3 linked regions of the Homo sapiens genome follow. The protein of the gene in region 1 interacts with the protein of each later gene in a pairwise test. Each region holds a gene or a part of one and is shown in the gene's direction. Other genes may lie near its edges. The genes, in order: MCFD2, SYS1 and SLC35A1.

What was found.
Region 2: the proteins of MCFD2 (region 1) and SYS1 interact in binary tests that used the Homo sapiens proteins (3 or more experiments, as listed by UniProt).
Region 3: the proteins of MCFD2 (region 1) and SLC35A1 interact in binary tests that used the Homo sapiens proteins (3 or more experiments, as listed by UniProt).

Annotation. Positions count from the first base shown.
Region 1 is NC_000002.12:46,912,563-46,920,143, reverse strand, and holds the start of MCFD2 (multiple coagulation factor deficiency protein 2 isoform A precursor), read left to right. Parts: upstream 1-4,337; 5' UTR 4,338-4,421; intron 4,422-7,581. UniProt on the Homo sapiens protein: The MCFD2-LMAN1 complex forms a specific cargo receptor for the ER-to-Golgi transport of selected proteins. Plays a role in the secretion of coagulation factors.
Region 2 is NC_000020.11:45,365,966-45,370,601, forward strand, and holds the end of SYS1 (protein SYS1 homolog), read left to right. Parts: intron 1-909; coding exon 910-1,150; 3' UTR 1,151-3,244; downstream 3,245-4,636. UniProt on the Homo sapiens protein: Involved in protein trafficking. May serve as a receptor for ARFRP1.
Region 3 is NC_000006.12:87,496,462-87,504,543, forward strand, and holds part of SLC35A1 (CMP-sialic acid transporter), read left to right. Parts: intron 1-4,046; coding exon 4,047-4,206; intron 4,207-4,696; coding exon 4,697-4,849; intron 4,850-8,082. UniProt on the Homo sapiens protein: Transports CMP-sialic acid from the cytosol into the Golgi apparatus, functioning as an antiporter that exchanges CMP-sialic acid for CMP. Binds both CMP-sialic acid and free CMP, but has higher affinity for free CMP.

The DNA of each region.
Region 1 (7,581 bases):
ATCAACAGTCAGACTTTTCATTAGGAGTGATGTGTGCTTTGATAAAGTCAGGGACGGAAGAAACAAGGTCATCAAATGCAGATGGCCATCATATTCACCACCCCAGTTTATAGTATATCTGAATTCAGAACAACACAACACATGCCAAAATTCCAAGCTTTTAACACCACAGTTCACCCTTATCAGAAATATGAATAAGGGAGAGAGAAATACAAAGCCCCATCCCAGCTGACAGGGGAGCCTAGAACATGCAACCCATTGAGGTCACCCTCATCCAATGCAAGGGTGATAGAGCAAGACCTTTTCTCTAAACAAAAGAAACTGCAGTTTCTTTGGTGGCAGTGTATTAAGTTCTCAGTTGGAGAATCTGGAAGCCGCACCCTTGTTTTTTCCTCTACTTGTGCAGAACGCACACCTTTTGCATCCTACTCCCTGTTAGAAGGAATTCCAGGGTTCAGAGATTACCACAGGGCCCAACAGCAAGAGACTGTTGTTAACCAGGCTTGAGATTTTAGGGACACAGGATTACCTCAATCATTTGTTAGACTTCTGATCAATTTCATGTATAGTAATCACAAATAACTTACCTAAAGTCTTATTTATTTATTTAGAGACAGAGTTTAGCTCTTGCTGCCCAGGCTGAAGAGCAATGGTGCGATCTCAGCTCACCTCAACCTCTGCTGCCCGGGTTCAAGCAATTCTCCTGCTTCAGCCTCCCGAGTATCTGGGATTACAAGCATGCGTCACCACACCCAGCTAATTTTGTATTTTTAGTAGAGACAGGGTTTCACCATGCTGGCCAGGCTGGTCTCGAACTCCTGACCTGAGGTGATTTGCCGCCTCGGCCTCCCAAAGTGCTGGGATTACAGGCGTGAGCCACCACACCCAGCCTATCTAGAGTCTTTAAATTGTTTTTATTCAATATTTTTCTATTTATTTTTCCAAATAAGTAATATGTAGTTTACAACATCAAAGCAATACTAAAAGGTGTAAATTGAAATCTTATTTTCACCCCTATTCTCATCCACTCTGGAATCCCCTACATAGGTAAAACATTGTCTTGAGACAATTCAAAACAGCTGAGGAAAGAGATGCCACCTAGAGGCCATTCTGGTATCTTGGGATGGCCGTCCTATCTCCTGATAAAGCCACCTCTCTGTCTCTACTTGTACTAGTTTCAACCTGAGTACACAAAGTAAATGGGGTATTTCAGCAAGGTTCCAAGTTATGAGACTCCTGGTTGCAGGTAAAGAGATCCTCTCTTACCTAGTCGTTACTTTCTTTAATCTCTGCTTTCAAATCAGTTATTTCCAACGTAGAGTTGCCCTTCTCTTGAAGGAGTCTGCTGAAAGCTACTAAAAAAGGCAACACTCACTAATGTTCCATATTGCTCGTGAGATTTCTCCAAAAATATAGCATTGGTTGGCATGTGGCCTATATCCAAGGTCCAGCAAGTGACAGTTTCACTACGGCTTATAAGGGTCACCAACTTTCCAGTTTGACATACAGTCTTTTAACACTGGCTACCTTAACCTCCAGTTAGCCAATTCCATATTTTAGTGTCTTGTTTTTAGCATCCTGCTTCTGGTACCAAATTATTTGCCTGTTAGGAATGGGTTCAGCTACAAGTTACAGAACACCCACCTATAAAATGGCTTAATCAAAGGTGGCTTCTCACTTATGGACTACAGTAGGGCAAGAATGGAAGCAGGACGGTCAGTTAGGAAGCTCTCTCTCAAGTAGTCCAGCAGCATCATCTACTACTGGACTAGATGGTTTAGTGGAGGTGGAAAGAAGTCAAAGACTCAGGATACATTTTGATAGCATCAACAGGCTTTGCTGAAGGATTTAAAGGTAAAGGGATGAGATAAATCAAAAACAGCTCGTAGAATTTTAGCTTGAACAACAGAATGAGTACCAGTGACATTTACTAAAATGCACAAGACTGAGAGAGGTGCAGGTTTGGGGGTGAAAATCAAGATTTTGGGGGGACACATTAAGTTTGAGATGCCAGTCTGACATTCATATGGAGACATCAAGTAGGCAGTTATTTACAGGAGCCAGGAATTACACAGAGAGGTCATTGTCAGAGAGACATATTTTGGAGTCATCTATTTATAAATGGTATCTAAAGCACAGGACTAGGTAAACTCACATAGGGAGGGTGGATAGAGAAGGTGACTCAGAACAGAACCCTGGACACTTTGATAATTATAGATTGAGAAGCCAATTAAGAAGCCCAAGAAAGGATAATGAGTGAGGTAGCAGAAGGACCCAGAGTGTGTGGTGTCAGAAAACAAGAGAAGAAAGTGTTTCTAAGTGAGAGTGGTTGGCTTTGATAAAACAGTGTTGAGAGGGCAAGTAAAATAAAAACAAGAGATCAAAGAGACCACTAGATTTGCATGGAGATTGCAGTTTCAGTGGTATGGTGGGGGAGAAAATACAGCAAGTTTATATGTTGATGGGAATTATCTGGTAGAGAGGGAGTGACTGTAGATTCAAGAGAGACATAACACAGGATAACATCCATAGGAAAAAAATGAAAGCACTGGCTAGAATGAGGACACTTTATCCATCTACCAGACACCAGCTTCTTGACACTTCATTTGTCTTATTTGTATCTCTAGTAGCTCCTAGTAGAGCGCCTAGTACATAGAAGATATTCAAGAAATGTTATTGAATGAATAAATGAACAAAGGGAGGGGTGGATGAATGGATGAAGAGATGGATGAATGGCAGATGCAGGGTAGAAGGAGGAACTAGATCAAACTAATCCAAAGTTCAGAGTAAGGAAAGAAGAATGGGTCTTGAATTAATAGGGTTTCCTCAAAACTTAGGGATTCTTTGTCCCGGCGCGGTGGCTCACCCCTGTAATCCCAGCACTTTGGGAGGCGGAGGTGGTGGGAGGATTGCTTGAACCCAGGAGTTCGAGACGAGCTGGGCACCATGGAGACTCTTTTCTTTAAAAAAAGAAAAAAAAATTAGGGATTATGGGATTTTTCTCTGGGATGGGGTGGCAGATTTCAATCTCAGATGAAGGTGGGAAAAGGAATGAGACCGTCAATGGCAGTGGCGTTAGGCAACTTTCAAGGCATCTAACTACTTAGCCACTTTCTTTGTCTTTCCTGTCCGGACCCAGGCTCATTTGAAAAACGATTATGTACCTTTATGGACAGAAATGGGAGAAGGGCTTTAAAAAAAACGACCGTCCTGCCGGGAGTGGTGGCTCACGCCTGTAATCCCAGCACTTTGGGAGGCTGAGGCGGGAGGATCAAGAGGTCAGCAGTTAGAGACCAGCCTGGCCAACACGGTGAAACCCCGTCTCTACTAAAAATACAAAAATTAGCCGGGCAAGGTGGCACGCGCCTGTAATCCCAGCTACTCGGGAGGCTGAGGTAGGAGAAGAGCTTGAACCTGGGAGGCGGAGGTTGCAGTGAGCCGAGATCCCACCACTGCACTCCAGCCTGGGACAGAGCGAGACTCCGTCTCAAAACAAAACAAAACAAAACAAAAAAACAAAACGACCGTCCTACACTCATTTATCCATCAGGTCAATGGATACTTACTGAATGTTAATCTTGTATAGGAGCACAGGTGTAAGGGCAGGATTATACAGGGATGAATTCGATACAGGGATGATGTATTCGTTTCCCTATTTGTTCATGAGTCTGTTTTTAAGTAATCTGTCCTCTCTTGAATGTCAAAAGCTGCTGATTTCACGAACGGTACATGGAAGATGGTATTTGAACTGGGTCGCATAGTCTTGCTGGGACTCCCGTGGAAGCGAACGGGGACAGCGGCTGCCGCAGCTTGTGCAGTGGAGCTGGCAGACGCTGGAAGCAGGCCAATCTTGAAACGTAGGGTCCAAGGCCGGCTCCAGCGTGTTGTGGTCGTTTCATCAAGAAGGAATTAGCATTCCTATTATCTTTCTTCCCAACTTGCAGCAGGACGAACCAAGAGACCTGAACCAAGAGCCCTGTATAGGAGGGGGTGAGCGGAGTTGGGAGCCAGCTTTGGGGTCCGCCCCATCCGGATCCGCCATCCTACGTCGCCCGTGGAACTACGTTCCTGAGGGCTTCCGGCGTTGCCTAGCAACTGCCGGGCCCCTAGGGCGTCCAGCGGCCCAACTGGAGTGGAGCCGAGTGTCGCCCTTGGGAAAGCAGGTAGAAGAACTGCGTCAGTCCCGCCAGTGCTGGGCCCGGGCCGATTACACGTGGACTCACGCGAGCCGTCCTCACAGCCCGCCGCCGCCAGCGGGAGGGGCCCGGCGGCGCCAATGGGCGGGCGGCAGGGAGCGCGCGTGCGCAGGGCAGGTCGGGGGGGGGGGGGGGGCGGGGCGAAGCCGAGGAAGAGCGTTTTGGGGACGGGGGCTGGTGAGGCTCACGTTGGAGGGCTTCGCGTCTGCTTCGGAGACCGTAAGGGTGAGTGAACTAGCGCACTCTCCGCAGCGGGCGGGATCCCGGCGCCTCTCCTGTGGGCTGGAGGCTTGGGCTCAAGATGAGAGGCAGGAGTAGTCTGGGGGCGCGGGCTGGGCCCCCAGGCCGTCTCGGGACGCTTAACCGGCTAGGAGCACGGCCTGTCTCCCGGGGCGGAAGCCTGTGCCCCACCGGGGGCTCTGGAGCCAGACGGGGCCGACTGGGCAGATCTCCGCCCCCTTCCCTGGTCCCTAGGGGCCCGAGGATCGGCCTGTGGGACCAGCTGTGTCGGGTGGACACTGCTCCTGGCCCGGCCCAAAAGCAGCGGGCCGGAAGCCTTACTCTCCCTCTGCTCCTTGTTCCCTCTCTCGGGGAGACCACAGGTCCTGTCGGGCCCGGCGGGGGAAGCTGATCTCCTGTTGTATTCCCTCTCTGGGCATGGCCATCCACCCGGGTGCCCAAGCCAGAATTGGGCATCATTCTCACTTGCTTCACTCCTTTACCCACCCACATCGAATCCCTTGCAAAGTTGTCTTGGATACGTTCATTCTCCAGTCCCATCCCCCTGCCCTACCTAGTTCAGGCCACCTTTTCTTCTCTGGACTACCTCGGTGTCTTCCTGATGATCCCTGCATCTCTTCTTCATCCTCTGTAGTTTGTTCTATACAGAGAGGCTACAGCCATGGTCTTAAAACAGAAATCTGATCATGTGACCAGAAGCGTCCCCCCATTCCCTTATCACCCTTTGGTGGATTCTCATTGCTCTTCCAAGCTCTTGAACGGGGCTTGCAAAGCCCTTCATGACCTGTCTTCCTTTAACTTTAGATTCATTTGTCTCGACTGTACTGTGTCTTCAACCATACTGAATCTTTTTTGGTTCTTAGATCAGAACAAGTTCCTTCTGGGCTTACATGTTCCTTCAGTATGTTCGCTATGTCTGAGGCACTGTCCTTTGGTTGAAATAATCCTTCTTATCCTTTATGTGTTATTTCAGGTGTCAGTTGGGGATTTCGTGGTACCCCATGGGTGTCTGCCTGCCGGTCTCTCTTTTCTACCAGGTTGTAATCTGTGTGAGAGGAGTTTGTCGAGGTCATAGTACTATCTTCAGTACCTTGTGCTGTTAGTACGGTCATTAAATGTATAAATGCAGCATGGGTGCTCCTTGGGCTCCCTAGATGAACAAATAGATCAAGTTATTAATATTAAATGCCTGCTTTTTCAGAACCAATTCTCAACCCTCAGTCCGTGTAGAGGTTTCTTTAGCTTAGGAAGTTGGTTATTTTCTTGCCTTCATTCCAGGACCATGACAGGGGTAAGTGACAAAGTACTGGTCAGTTTTTCTTTGGCATTGGCTGTGGGTACAGGATGTCTGGATGTTGGTGAGTTTGGCTGCTTTGGGTTTGAATTCTTAACCAAGGGCCCCTTGAGGGAGAAGCTGCTACTAGCTGCTGGCAGGAAGGCTGGCCCCAAACTTAGTGCTGATAGGACTGATGACACACCAGGAAGAAAGGGTTGGGCCAGGTCAAACCACTGGAAGCCTCCAAAGGAAGTTCCAGCTTAGGCTAGATCCGCTGTGGGATAGGGAACAATACACCTAGGTGCCAAGACTCACTTCCCTGATTCAGCGATGAGCCAGGTCAGCTCAGCAGAGATCAGTAAGGTAAATGAGAGCCAGAGGAGAGAGGGTCCTGACTCTCAGAGAGGGAGGAAAAGAGAAAAATGGAAAAGGAGAACAACCTGTGATCGTATGTTCAGGTCAAATGAGTGTGAGAGGCTACAGACTGAGGTCGGATGAGAGAGCAATTGGTCTTGGCTGGAAGAATCCTGAGGTGACATTTGAACCTGTCCTGGAAGGAAGTTGGAGATGGACAGATGGAACCAGTAGGAGCGGAGGCTGTGGTACAGGAAGAGGCTGGCAGAGCAGGAGGGGAGCACTGTGACAGCCAAGGCACTGGGAGGCGCACTGCTCCTGATGGTCCAGCACTGCCCTCCCAGGACTGAGGCTGCGCCTTGTGAGGGCTGTCTCAAGGTATGGGTTGTGCCCTGAAGTCCCTTTGCAGAAATTTCTCCTCCGTTGGGTTTTTCTTCAGCCTGGCCTTTATAATTTCCTAAAGAAGGCCAGTGAGCTGGGGCTTATCTTCAGGCTGTTAGCCCATGGCCTTGAGCTAAGTAGTTAGAGCATGGATGATGCAACCTGTTATTTGGGTAGAGGGAGTTGCTTATGCTTTCTCTTGACTGTCAGCAGTTTAATTTGTTAGGTGGCAGTTAGATTCCCTGTTTTCTATCTTTCCCTCCCTCGCCTGCCTTCTTTCCTTTCTTCCTCTCTCTCTCTCTCTTTTTCTAATTAGAGAGGGAGTCTCACCATGTTGTCCAGGCTGGTCTTGAACTCCTGGGCTCAAGTGATTCACTTGCCTCAGCCTCTCAAAGTATTGAGATTACAGGCATAAGCCACCATGCCCAGCCCGATTCCCTGTTTTCAGTGTACCACTTGGAGGAATTTTTTTTCTTTATGTTTATCGATTTGGCTTTTGTTGCATTCCAATGATTAGAAACCTGCAACAGCAAACCAAAATGAGACAAGTTCAAAATCAGTGATTCTTGGCCTTTATCCCACCTCCCTTAAAGAAGGGATATTTTGGACTCATAGTTACTACATGATTAATCACTTGGTTGCTTTTTGGTGTTATCTAAATAGAATTTCCCCCACCCCCAACACACACACACCAAATTGATATACTAAGCATCCAATCACATAGTTGGAGGAAATGGTGCCATGAGTTCCATGATAGATATCTCCAAAAGAAAAGTTTCATCTTCAGTTACAGTGACATTAAAAATTGGCAGCATATCTGCAAAGGTGGTAATCCCCCCAGCTCCCCAAGGACCATGGCACACAGGCTAAGAACCAGCAGCTTCTGTTCCAGGCACTGTGCCTGATACTGGGAATGTGGATTCAGTCCAAGTCCTCTTAAAGCCCATCCAGCAAGGGGCACTGACAAGTAATCAGGCAGTTTTTCAAGAATTCATTCACACACAAGAAAACAAAAGAAAAAAAAGAATTAATTTGCAGCTGTCATCAGCTGTGGACGGGAGCCTTCTGAAGGGAAGCACTTGGGAGCCTGCAGGACGAATACCTACACCAGACTTGGAATTGAAAAGACCTCAC
Region 2 (4,636 bases), on another chromosome or scaffold:
CCGAGAGGCAGGAGAACTGGGTTCTGTTCTTGGTTTGTGTGCCATTGGCCAAGTTACTTGCCATGGGCCTCAGGCTCCTCTTTTGTCCATGAGGGTTTGGACTCAGTGATGTCTAAGGTCACACGTAATCATTGCCTGTCTCTTAAGAGGCAGTTTAGCATAGTGGTCAAGGTGTCAGGCTCTGGAGGCAGACTCATTTGGCATTGAACCTCAGCTTTACTACTAGTCTAGTGACTTTGGACAAGTTAATCTACCACAGTTGCCTCATCAGTAAAATGGGGCTAGTAATATTACCTACCTCATAGTTGTAAGGATTAAATAAGTTAATTCACAAGAAGGACTTAGAACAGTGCCTTGCATGTTATTATTATTCTTGTCCTTACACCGGAGGTTGAAAACTGGTGGGCTGACTTTGACCTAAATTTGTCTTCCAGATAGGTTCTATTTGGCTTACATAGATGTCAGCCCACACATGGTGTTTAAAACATTTTTTTCACTTAGTTGAAAATCAGGCTATTTTATATAAAAATCCAGATTTCTGGCTTCTCTTGAATAATGGAATGACTGACTGATTCCAGGCCAACCTTCTAGCATGATAAGATTTGCCTAGATGCAAGTAGCTACTGCCCCCCTTTAGCTAGAACATGTATGCTTCAGGGTGTCATGATCCCCACCAATTCCTAGGATCCCCTAGTGACAATTGCCATCGATCATCAAGCTCATACTCAGTCAGCTTCACTCTTGACATTACCCGCCAGGTTCTTCTAGGCGTCTGGTATCATAACCCTTGCTTCACACTTATCTCGTCACTTCTGACCACTATGCTGCCGTCCTAATTGTCCCTACCCTCCCAAATAACCTAAGGCCAGGACAACCCAGTGACAACTCACTGCTGTCCTCTCCCCACAGTGCCCTGGGCTTGCTGTACTTCATCCGGCGAGGAAAGCAGTGTCTGGATTTCACTGTCACTGTCCATTTCTTTCACCTCCTGGGCTGCTGGTTCTACAGCTCCCGTTTCCCCTCGGCGCTGACCTGGTGGCTGGTCCAAGCCGTGTGCATTGCACTCATGGCTGTCATCGGGGAGTACCTGTGCATGCGGACGGAGCTCAAGGAGATACCCCTCAACTCAGCCCCTAAATCCAATGTCTAGAATCAGGCCCTTTGGACATCCTGCTGACACTTGGGCCCCTTAACACCTTGGGCTGCTCAGACCCTCCAGATGAGGTCCAGCCCAGATCTGAGAGGAACCCTGGAAATGTGAAGTCTCTGTTGGTTTGGGAGAGATAGTGAGGGCCTGTCAAAGAAGGCAGGTAGCAGTCAGCATGACAGCTGCAAGAATGACCTCTGTCTGTTGAAGCCTTGGTATCTGAGAGGTCAGGAAGGGGACCTCTTTGAGGGTAATAACAGAATTGGAACCATGCCACTCTTGAGCCACAATACCTGTCACCAGCCTGTTGTTTTAAGAGAGAAAAAAAATCAAGGATATCTGATTGGAGCAAACCACTTCTTTAGTCATCTGTCTTACCCCCCTGGGACAGCTGTTACCTTTGCAGTGTTGCCGAATCACAGCAGTTACCTTTGCAGTGTTGCCGAATCACAGCAGTTCTGTTGGAGAAACGCTTGGTTTCCGGATCCAGAGCCACAGAAAGAAATGTAGGTGTGAAGTATTAGGCTGCTGTCAGGGAGAGGATGGCAGATGGAGGCATCAAGCACAAGGAAAATGCACAACCTGTGCCCTGTTATACACACGTTCATGTGCACCCAAGAACCTATGACTTTCTTCCAGTTCCTTCTACCAGGTCCCCATCCTGCTGCCAGCTCTCAACATAGCAGGCCATAGGACCCAGAGAAGAATCCCAGCGTTGCTCAAAGTCTAACCATCATAAAGACACTGCCTGTCTTCTAGGAATGACCAGGCACCCAGCTCCCACTGGACTCCAATTTTTTTTCCTGCCTTATTTAGAATTCTTTGGCGGGAAGGGTATGATGGGTTCCCAGAGACAAGAAGCCCAACCTTCTGGCCTGGGCTGTGCTGATAGTGCTGAGGGAGATAGGAATTTGCTGCTAAGATTTTTCTTTGGGGTGGAGTTTCCTCTGTGAGGGGCTTGCAGCTATCCTTCCTGTGTATACAAATACAGTATTTTCCATGGTTCTGCCTGCACTTACTTTGTAATGCCACGGTTGAGATTGAGAGAGATCAGCGCAGCCAGGCAAGGGAACTTTAAAGAATTATTAGGCCACCTTCTCCCTTTCCTGGACCCCAGAGTCATTCCTCCATTTGGTTAAAATACTCAGTGCAGGGAACTCTTACATCCTGTCTCCTTCACTTGCAGCGTCCCCTGCTATGCCTCAGGTGAACCACATAATTCTTGGGTTTCCGTTCCTACTTGCTAGTGATTTCTGAACATGTTCAATGGAGCGGCACACAGTCTAGACCCACTTCCGCATTGAAACCTTCACTGTTCCTCTTTGGTTTCTTCAGAGCTTTCCCAAGAGAGCTGTCAGTTTTCAGCTGTCAGTAACACAAATGAGTTTATGGTAACACAAATGAGTTTTGCTATCTCTCTGAGAAGCTCATCTGACCTCCTGACTCTCAGCCCTACAGAGTAGGGAGTTGATGCTGACAGGATGAAGATTTAGGAATAAATATGCCTGGGAAGAGACTGGGAAGGTTCTAGGGTGAGGCACCTCAGTAACTCATGGTACCTTGGCCAAGTTGGAAGGAAGCAGTTTGTTAATGAGGCACAGTAATCCTGGCTGCAGGGTCTAGGAGGTAAGACCAGCTGGGATGACCTTCCCTGGGTTAATCAATTTCCCTCTAGACAACACAAACTGCAGGCATGTGACTAACTTTGAAAGAACACCCATCATGTGGCTGCTGTCACCCTTGACCAGCCGTGGTGGTGGTTACTCCATCTGTGGTTGGAGCGCCTCTTTGGGATTCACTTCAAGGTCTTGTGCCTATTTTTCTGCATATCTTCTGTGATGACAAATCTCTGTCCCCTGAGTGTTAATTTGATTTTTAGAAATGGCCAAAAGTCACGTGATCCAAACTTTTTTTCAGTAATATGGAGACTGAGCTGCATGGTAGTTGGGGATCAAAAATATGTGACCTTAATGAGATTTTTATGATTTCTAAAGTAACAATAAAAGCAGTTTTTAGAGTTGAGTTCCAGAGAGGGCAGGGCAATGGCAGTGACATGTTTGTCATTTTAATAATAAATAACATCTATTGAGTGCTTAAGAGGTGTCCAGCAGTGTGGGCTGAGTGCTTTATGTCTCTTTTCAAAATCTTCACAAGAACCCTCTGAAGTAAGAAGTAACGTCATCTGTATCTTACAGATGAGGGAGCTGTAAGGAACTTACCCAAGGTGACTTTTTAGGAGCTGGCAGAGCCAGGATTTGGGCTCTAATAGTGATATTAATAAGCTCATTTTGAAGAGGTCAGTAGTTAGGGATGTATAAGTTCTGACTGGCTAAACAGTCTGGTTAAATAGTTTATCACCTTATAATCATATCTTCTTGTCCTGTCAATTTTTTTAAATACCGAGGATGAATAGTACTTTATAAACATTACTAGCTTTCTAAGAAAAGCTGATATGCAGTACATTAAATATAGCCAGAGATTTCCTTTTTTTTTTTTTTTTTTTTTTTTGAGGCAGGGTCTTACTCTGTCACCCAGGCTGGAGTGCACTGGTGTGATCTTGGCTCATCATAGCCTCAACCTCCCAGGCTCAATGATCCTCCTGCCGCAGCCCCCCAAGTAGCTGGGACTATAGGCACATGCCACCACGCCCAGCTAATTTTTGTATTTTTATTTTTATTTTTATTTTTTTAGAGACAGGGCTTTGCCACTTTGCCCAGGCTGGTCTCGAACTCCTGGGCTCAAGAGATCCACCTGCCTCGGCCTCCCAAAGTGCTGGGATTTTACAGGTGTGAGCCACCAAGCCCAACTGGCCTTTTTTTTTTTTGAAACAGAGTTTCACTCCGACTTCATTACCCAGGCTGGAATGCAGTGGCCCAATCTCAGCTTACTGCAACCTCTGCTTCCTGGGTTCAAGCAATGCTCATACTTCAGCCTCCCAAGTAGCTGGAATTACAGGTTGGCACCATCATGCTTGGCTAATTTTTGTATTTTTCATAGAGACGGGGTTTCATCATGTTGGCCAGGCTGGTCTCGAACTCTTGGCCTCTCAAGTGATCCACCCGCCTCAGCCTCCCAAAGTGCTGGGATTACAGGCATGAGCCACTGTGCCCAGCATTGGCCAGAGATTTTCAGATGATCTTAGGAATGTGGGAAATCTATTTCCAAAGGATAAAGGAAGGTACCTAGATAAGAGAGTACTAGCCCACTACTGAGTTGGCATATCTCTTAACTCTCCAGGTGTCTGAAGTTGACCTCCCTTTTTCCCACCCACCACCTGAACTCTGGCCATTCAGAGAGAAAAGTGGAGACTCCTACATAGCTGATGGTCAGAATAGTTTATAACCCTTAAAGGAGGACAGGAAAGGAAAAAGGGATGTCTGGCTCAGAGGGTACTTCTAACCCCTCGCTCTAGGCAGCCCTGTCCATATCAGTGCCAAATGAGAGCCACGATGGCAGCCAGCAGACATCAGGGGGTACAATGGGAAGCTC
Region 3 (8,082 bases), on another chromosome or scaffold:
GTGCTTGTGATTTGATTTCTAAGAAAGTAAGTTGAGGGCCAGGCGTGGTGGCTTACGCCTGTAATCCAGCACTTTGGGAGGCCGAGGTGGGTGGATCACTTGGTCAGGAGTTCAAGACCAGCCTGGCCAACATGATGAAAAACCCCATCTCTACTAAAAATACAAAAAATTAGCCAGGTGTGGTGGTGTGCACCTGTACTCCCACTTACTTGGGAGGCTGAAGCAGGAGAATCACTTGAACCCAGGAGGTGGAGGTTGCAGTGAGCCGAGATCACACCACTGCACTCTAGCCTGGGTGACATGGCTAGACTCCATCTCAAAAAAAAAAAAAAAGAAAAACCCACCAAAACAGAAAATATAAGTTCCGGAAAATGGAAGAAAAAGTAACCTTTTTACAATATATTACAGTATATTTAGGACTGATCATTTGTTTCTATCTCTTTCATAGTAAAACAAAACGATGATTACTAGTGTTTTCTAGCAGATATATTGCTCTTGTTACTTTTATGTAACTTCAGTGAGTAAAGCTAAATATAAGATTAAGAGCTGTATTCTTAATAAATACATTAACTTAAGCAGGATTTAACCTGATTAATACTGAAATTATTTACCCTCTTCTTTAAAACTTTCTGTGTGGTGAGATTCCCACATATTCTTTCCAATACCTCCTAAATCTCCTCTACTTTCTGATACTTTTCTGTTATTCTCTTTTACTAGTTCTTTTAGCATCCTCTGTTTTTTTTTGTAACTTATTTCAAAATATCTTATGTAACATTGCTATAATCTTTGGTACTACAGTGATATTTGCACTTTCCAGCAATTAACATTCTGGTATACCTTGGTTTCTCTAATGTCTACATTAGAGAAGGAACCAGAAAAAGATACCTTGGCCATCCTGACCGTGAAAAAATAGCTCCTAAGCATCCAACAAAAAGGATATGGCCAAAAGAGACAGATCTGAAGGTTAATCCTGACGCACTGTACTTTACTTTTTGCTCCACTGAAGGAAAGGAATACTCAGATTGGCTGCTAATTTGTTTCATAAGCCCTTCTTTTTATGTGAAAAGTGAGGGAGAAGTGATAAGAAAGAAAAGAGTGGGGAGAAAAGGGACCACAGCAGCCTTTATTGGTGCAGGTATCGTGATTATTTGGAGTAGCAGTTGGATCCTTAAGTAGCCCATATTCTGACAGGACAAAGAGAATCAGCCCTGTTTTTTGGAGAGTCAAAAGGTCGTTTGTTACCAGTGAAGGCTTCTAATGTCTTATTTTTTTCTTTTTTTTAAAAGAGATGGTATCTTACTCTTTCACCCAGGCTGGAGTGCAGTGGTGGCATCATAGCTCACTGTAGCTTCAAACTCCTGGGCTCAAGTGATGCTCCCACCTCAGCCTCCTGCGTAGCTGGGATGATAGGCATGTGCCACCACTCCTGGCAGTTTTTTTTTTTTTTTTAAGAGAAGGGATTTTCCTCTGTTACTTGGGCTGGTCTCCAACTCCTGGCCTCAAGTGATCCTCTTGCCTTAGCCTCCTGAGTAGCTGGGATACAGGTGTGAGCCACCACACCCACCAAGGCTATAATATATTTAACAGGTGGAGGTAAAGTGGCATTGCCCATAGCTGGGGATTAGGGAAAGGATAAATAGCCATTATATTGTAGCTTTTGAGGGTTTAGCATGAAGAATCTTACACCAGGAGATAAATGAATATGGGAGAAGGTGGAGTGTGAAGCATGGGCACAAACAGCCACCTCTCAGCAGTTCCTTCTGGGTATCACCTTAAAGACACATCATCAGTGTATGAGTCAGCATTTTAGAAGGGCACTAAAACTTGCACTTCATACAGTCTGTAAAATTTATATCTATGCTATCATGATACTAGAGATAATTATAATGTTCAGTTATCTTCTCTGATACATCACCTTATTAAGGTGATTATTTTACATTTTAATCTCTTTTTCTCTAATTTTTTCATCAGTTTTATAATTGAGGAGAAAACATTTTGAAAATTATTCTTTATACTCTATTTAAGATGTTGGCCAGGTGCAGTGGCTCATGCCTGTAATTCCAGCACTTTGGGAGGCCGAGGCAGGAGGATCACTTAAGGTCAGGAGTTTGAGACCAGCCTGCCAACATGGAAACCCCGTCTCTACCAAAAATACAAAAATAAGCCGGGCGTAGTGGCCTGTGCATGTAGTCCCAGCTACTCAGGAGGCTGAGGTAGGAGAATCCATGAACCTGGGAGATGGAGGTTGCAGTGAGCCGAGATTGCACCATTGCACTCCAGGTTGGGTGACAGAGAAAGACTCCGTCTCAAAAAAAACAAAACAAAACAACAAAGATGTAAGGAAAGTATATGGGGCATCTTAGATTTGCATTAAGCAGTTAAAAAAAAAGGCAAACATTAGTTTAAAGAGCCAATCTTCAGAAGCCTGGAAAACTCTCCTACATAGATTTTTTGGTGGAAAATCTGTGGTATTTTTGGTATTCTTCTGCTTTTCGAATAGAGTTTGTAGTCCACCACTAGGCTGTGTGCGTTCCTTTTCAGCATATAGACTTAACACTGTGGTGTGGGTTTGGATTTGGTAATACAAAGAGATCTGTAACTAAGAAGGATGTCTTTTGTTTCTGTGGCTTAGGTCAAAGTTCCTGTCTTATTAATTAAGCATTTTCTTGGAGGTAGAATGTTCTACAGCAAATAAATAGGCACAGGTTAGTCAATTTAATATAATGGACTTTTGCTTTCTCTCAGAACTTGGGCAATTATATTTGCAGCATTTAAAAATGAAAAAATTCAACTCACAACTGTTGATTCTAATATATTAACCAAAAATACAGAATCTCATTGTAATTATCAAACTTTGAGTTGGAACAGAGCTATTTCACCAACAAAGTATTATGGTTTTCTTAAGGATATCGTGAGCTGCAGTTAGGACCATTATTATAAAGCACTTCTTTTGGGGTATTGGTGCTTATTATAAAACATTGCTTTATTTTTACTTTCAGGAAATCAATGAGCTGATTTATGATACAGGAAATACAAGCCAGATTAGCCACGTCCTTCTGAAATAATAATAGCAAAAATAATAGTTAAGAGCATGCATAATCAATATGCAGTCAAACAGTAAACTTTATGTACATTAGAGATATAGTTTACTTTTGTTGGAGTTAGTAAATTATTCAGATCTGCTACAGAATTATACAGATATAAAGTATGAGAATATTCTTACATAAGGATTTATTATCTACTATATTTCATAAGTACTAAATTCATTTATAAATAATACTGACCTGACTCTTCCTAACCCACTTAACGAACTACCAAAGCCTTTTTATTTGCAATTAAATCTATTGTAATTTAAAAAAAACTTTAAAAATAGGCCAGGTGCAGTGGCTCACGCCTGTAATCCCAGTACTTTGGGAGGCCGAGGCGGGCAGATCACTTGAGGTCAGGAGTTTGAAACCAGCCTGGCCAACAATACTAAAAATACAAAAAATTTAGCTTGGTGTGGTGGTGGGTGCCTGTAATCCTAGGTACTCAGGAGGCTGAGGCAGGAGAATCACTTGAACACGGGAGGTGGAGGTTGCAGTGAGCTGAGATAGCGCCACTGCACTCCAGCCGGGGCGACACAACAAGACTCCATCTCAAAAATAAATATAAAAATAAAAATGGATATGCAAACTGATCAATTAAAAAGTAATCAGGGTGAACTTGATGAAATAGTTAAAGTAGCAGGGGATGAATTTTTTTATAGGTAATATCAACAGTTTTCCTAATCTCATTATTCAATATACTCAGAATCTCTCAGAGCTTTGACTAGAGATAGTGGTAAATCTAGTTGTTGTCATATTTTCCCAAACAGAACTATAATTTTTTAAAGAGGATACATTATTGGTATGTTTCTTTTAATCTAAAACTAGTTAGAAATTATTAGTTTGCTAAATTACAGCAAGCATAGTATGCTTGTCCTGTGTTTGAAGAAGTCTTATTAAAATAATACTCTTTAATTTTCTTCCTTACCACCCTCTCATCTCCCCCTTTTGTTTTCAAAGAGAAACTGGTAGTCTGGGTAGATTCAAAGCATCTTTAAGAGAAAATGTCTTGGGGAGCCCCAAGGAACTGTTGAAGTTAAGTGTGCCATCGTTAGTGTATGCTGTTCAGAACAACATGGCTTTCCTAGCTCTTAGCAATCTGGATGCAGCAGTGTACCAGGTAAGTGGAGTTAATGATAATGAAAAGCACAGAATCTTTTATGGTAAAAAGAGTTTTTATTAACTCTTTATCATATTATCAATTTTTTTTTTTTTTTTGAGATGGAGTCTCGCTCTTTCGTCTAGGCTGGAGTGCAGTGACGTGATCTCAGCTCACTGCAATCTCCGCCGCCCAGGTTCAAGCGATTCTCCTGCCTCAGCCTCCCGCGTAGCTGGGACTATAGGCACATGCCACCACACCCAGCTAATTTTTTGTATTTTTAGTAGAGATGAGGTTTCACTATGTTGGCCATGATGGTCTTGATCTCCAGACCTCGTGATCCACCACCCGCCTCGGCCTCCCAAAGTTCTGGGATTACAGGTGTGAGCCACCGTGCCCGGCCATTATCAAATATTTTTTATTGATAATTTTATCAATGATACCAGAAATAATATATTTGTATCAGAGACTAACATTAACTGAATTTATTAATTCATTCTCTTTTTTTTAGGTGACCTACCAGTTGAAGATTCCGTGTACTGCTTTATGCACTGTTTTAATGTTAAACCGGACACTCAGCAAATTACAGTGGGTTTCAGTTTTTATGCTGTGTGCTGGAGTTACGCTTGTACAGTGGAAACCAGCCCAAGCTACAAAAGTGGTGGTAAGAAACAAAATGCACACCATAACTTCCCATAAATAGAAAACTTCCTTAAGTCTTATACTGTTCAGTTACATTGATGCATGCAGCATGACTACATTTCTTTGATTTAAAATAACTTTTGCCTTATAGATAGGCCTTTTTTCTTTAGCATATTATTAGGGATAATAATACTTATTGGTTGTTTCTCAGAGGAGAATATGCATAAAATATGTTACAGATGGAACATACCTTAGAAATAATGTGTTCCATCCCCTCCATTTTATGGATGACAGTCCCCAAAGAGGTGAAGGAACTTGTCCTAAATTAGTTAATAGCTAACTTGTGACCACAACTGTGCCAGTTTCCATACTGTATATGTTTAGAACTTCTAGACCTCTTTCAAACATCTCAGAAACACTGGGCAAGGTTTTTCTGCATCTAGTTTTCATCTTCTCTCTCAACTGTCAGTCTCTGGCACATCTCCCTACTGTCAGTGATCAGGATGACAAGGGAAGGAGTGTTCTTACTGATAATTGATAATTATCTTTAGTTTTTAAGAGTTAATGTGAAGGTACATAACAGATTTTTAAAGAGTTAACGCTAAGATACATACATGATTTTTTTTCTTACATTGTATGCCTCAATCAGTTATTTCCCCAAAGAGAAACAGGAAATGGGATGCCAGTGAATAGTTTTGTGAAGGTCAGGAGTTTCCTACAGTTGAATATTTACTCTAACTTTTAGCAAACAGACTATGGTTCTCTTAGGAATGGAAGGCGGCTGGGATGTACAGTGCTTGTGAACAGTATCATATCCCCACCCTCCAGGTCCCCTCCTTCCCCAATTAAAACCCTACTGTTTCTTTCTATAATATGGTTTCTAGACAGACTTCCTGATCCCTGCCTTCTGCCCCTACACTTTTCCTTATATTTTTCTCCTAGATGCATTCATCTGTCATTATTTCTCAATATATCCTAAAACCCCACTGTCTCCCAATGTTGTCTAAGTAATACGAGGCACAGTTTGGTAATTACCCCTTTGTTCTGAATACCGGAGACTTGTTATACAGTCATGCATCGCTTAACAAAGAATGTAAGTTCAGGGTTCTGAGAGATGCATCATTAGGTGATTTCACTGTTGTGCAAACATCATGGAGTATACTTACACAAATCTAGATGGTATAGACTACTTACTACACATCTAGGCTGTACAGTATATAGCCTATTGTTCCTAGGCTACAAACTTCTGCAGCATGTTACTGTGCTGAATACTGTAGCGAGTTGTAACACAGTGGTAAGTTTAGCGTACCTAAACATAGAAAAGGCACAAATATAGTTTTATCTTACAGGACCGCTGTTTTATATGTGGTTCATCATGGACTGAAATGTCATTATGTGGTACATGACTGTTAATTTCTGGGGGGCAGGCAAAGTATCTATTTTACAATTGATCATAAACCACTACATGTAACTGTGTCACCCAAATAGTTTGTCTCAAATGTATCTTGTATCCCTCTCACCCCACTGTTCCCTCAATCTGTCTGCACTGCCATGCACTCCTCCACTACTGGTTAAGTGGGTTCCAAGTGTCAGGACTGGAATAGACTCTCATTGACACTAGAACTCAAACTCTGGCTTATTCTAAACCAGAATGCAGGTTGAGTTTGTATTTATTAAGCTCTTCTTGTTAGCTTTGGGTCATTGCTCAGCCCCTTGAGTTATTTCCAGTTCTTACCCATTATTAGCTTCTCCTTTGGGTATTACGCTTTCCAGAGTCAAAAAAAATATGCCTTCTGGGTCTTTAATGAAAATTTTAGGTAGAACAGGACCAGAGTTCTGTGGCTGTACCTTTAGAATTCTCTCTAGCTTGATCTTTTTCTTGCTTACTGAACATATCATCTCTCATAGTTTTTATGGGTCAGGAATTTGAGGGTGCCTTAGCTAGCTGGTTCTGGCTTGAGGTTGCAGTCAAGATACTGGCTAGGGCTGCAGTCAACTGAAGACTTGACTACGGCTGGAGGATCTGTTTCTAACGTGGCTTATCTATATGCCTGGCAAGTTGGTATTGGTTGATGGCCTAGCTTGATTTTGTTCAATTAACTACCATTTTTCTGTATGAGCATTCACACACTTACGGATTGTACCTTTATCCTCACTACAGTTCTGTGTTGTCTATAAAAATATTATGTGGCTGGTCGCAGATCACCAGGTGAGGAGTTCGAGACCAGCCTGGCTAACATGGTGAAACCCCGTCTGTACTAAAAATACAAAAACTTAGCTGGGCGTGGTGGCAGGCGCCTGTAATCCTAGCTACTCAGGAGGCTGAGGCAGGAGAATCGCTTGAACCTGGGAGGCAGAGGTTGCAGTGAGCCGAGATCGCGCCACTGCACACCAGCTCGAGTGATAGTGCGAGACTCTGTTTCAATAATAATAATAATAACAATAATATGCAAGTCTGTCACATTTTTTGCCAAACATTATCTCTATGGAATTCCCCTCATCACTTAACATTAGGAGTCCTTTCAGTAAGGAAATCTGGTATGTTTCACACTTGGTGAAGTCACACTATTTTCCACTGATGACCATTAAGCTTTTTAAGTACAAGTCATCTCTAAATCTGTTCTAACATTTTGCTGGTAATCAATGTAACAATAACAGCTGCAATCATTTATAATGCACTAAATACTAGCATTATCTAAATGCTTTATATACACTAACTCACCTACTTTTCTTGATAGTCTTTTAAATTTATTTAGCTAGGTAGTCTAGGCGGGGAGAATTGCTTGAGCCCAGGAGTTCAAGACCAGCCTGGGTAATATAGTGAGACCATGTCTCTACAAAAAAATTTAAAACTTAGCTAGATGTGGTGATGCATGCCTGTAGTCCCAGCTACTTGGGAAGCTGAGGTGGGAGGATCACTTGAGCCGAGGAGGTTGAGGCTGTAGTGAACCATGATTATACCACAAGATCCTGTCTCAAAAAGAAAAAAAAAAAAAAAAGCTTTCTTTAATGCCTTACAGGATTTTTTGCAAGCCTCCACTTATTCTGAGTTTTCGATTTCTTGATACTATTCTTAAATTCCTGGTTAGATTCCTCTTGGTGATCTGTACTTCGGCTTTGTTCTTGTAAAATCAGAATTCAGTGAAGATGCCCTTATTTAGATATGTTGATTTCCTTATGTATTCTTTTTTTTACTTTTCACCAGAACCTCCTTCTTCAGTAACTCTTAATCTCTCTTGAATGTTCTTCTCACGA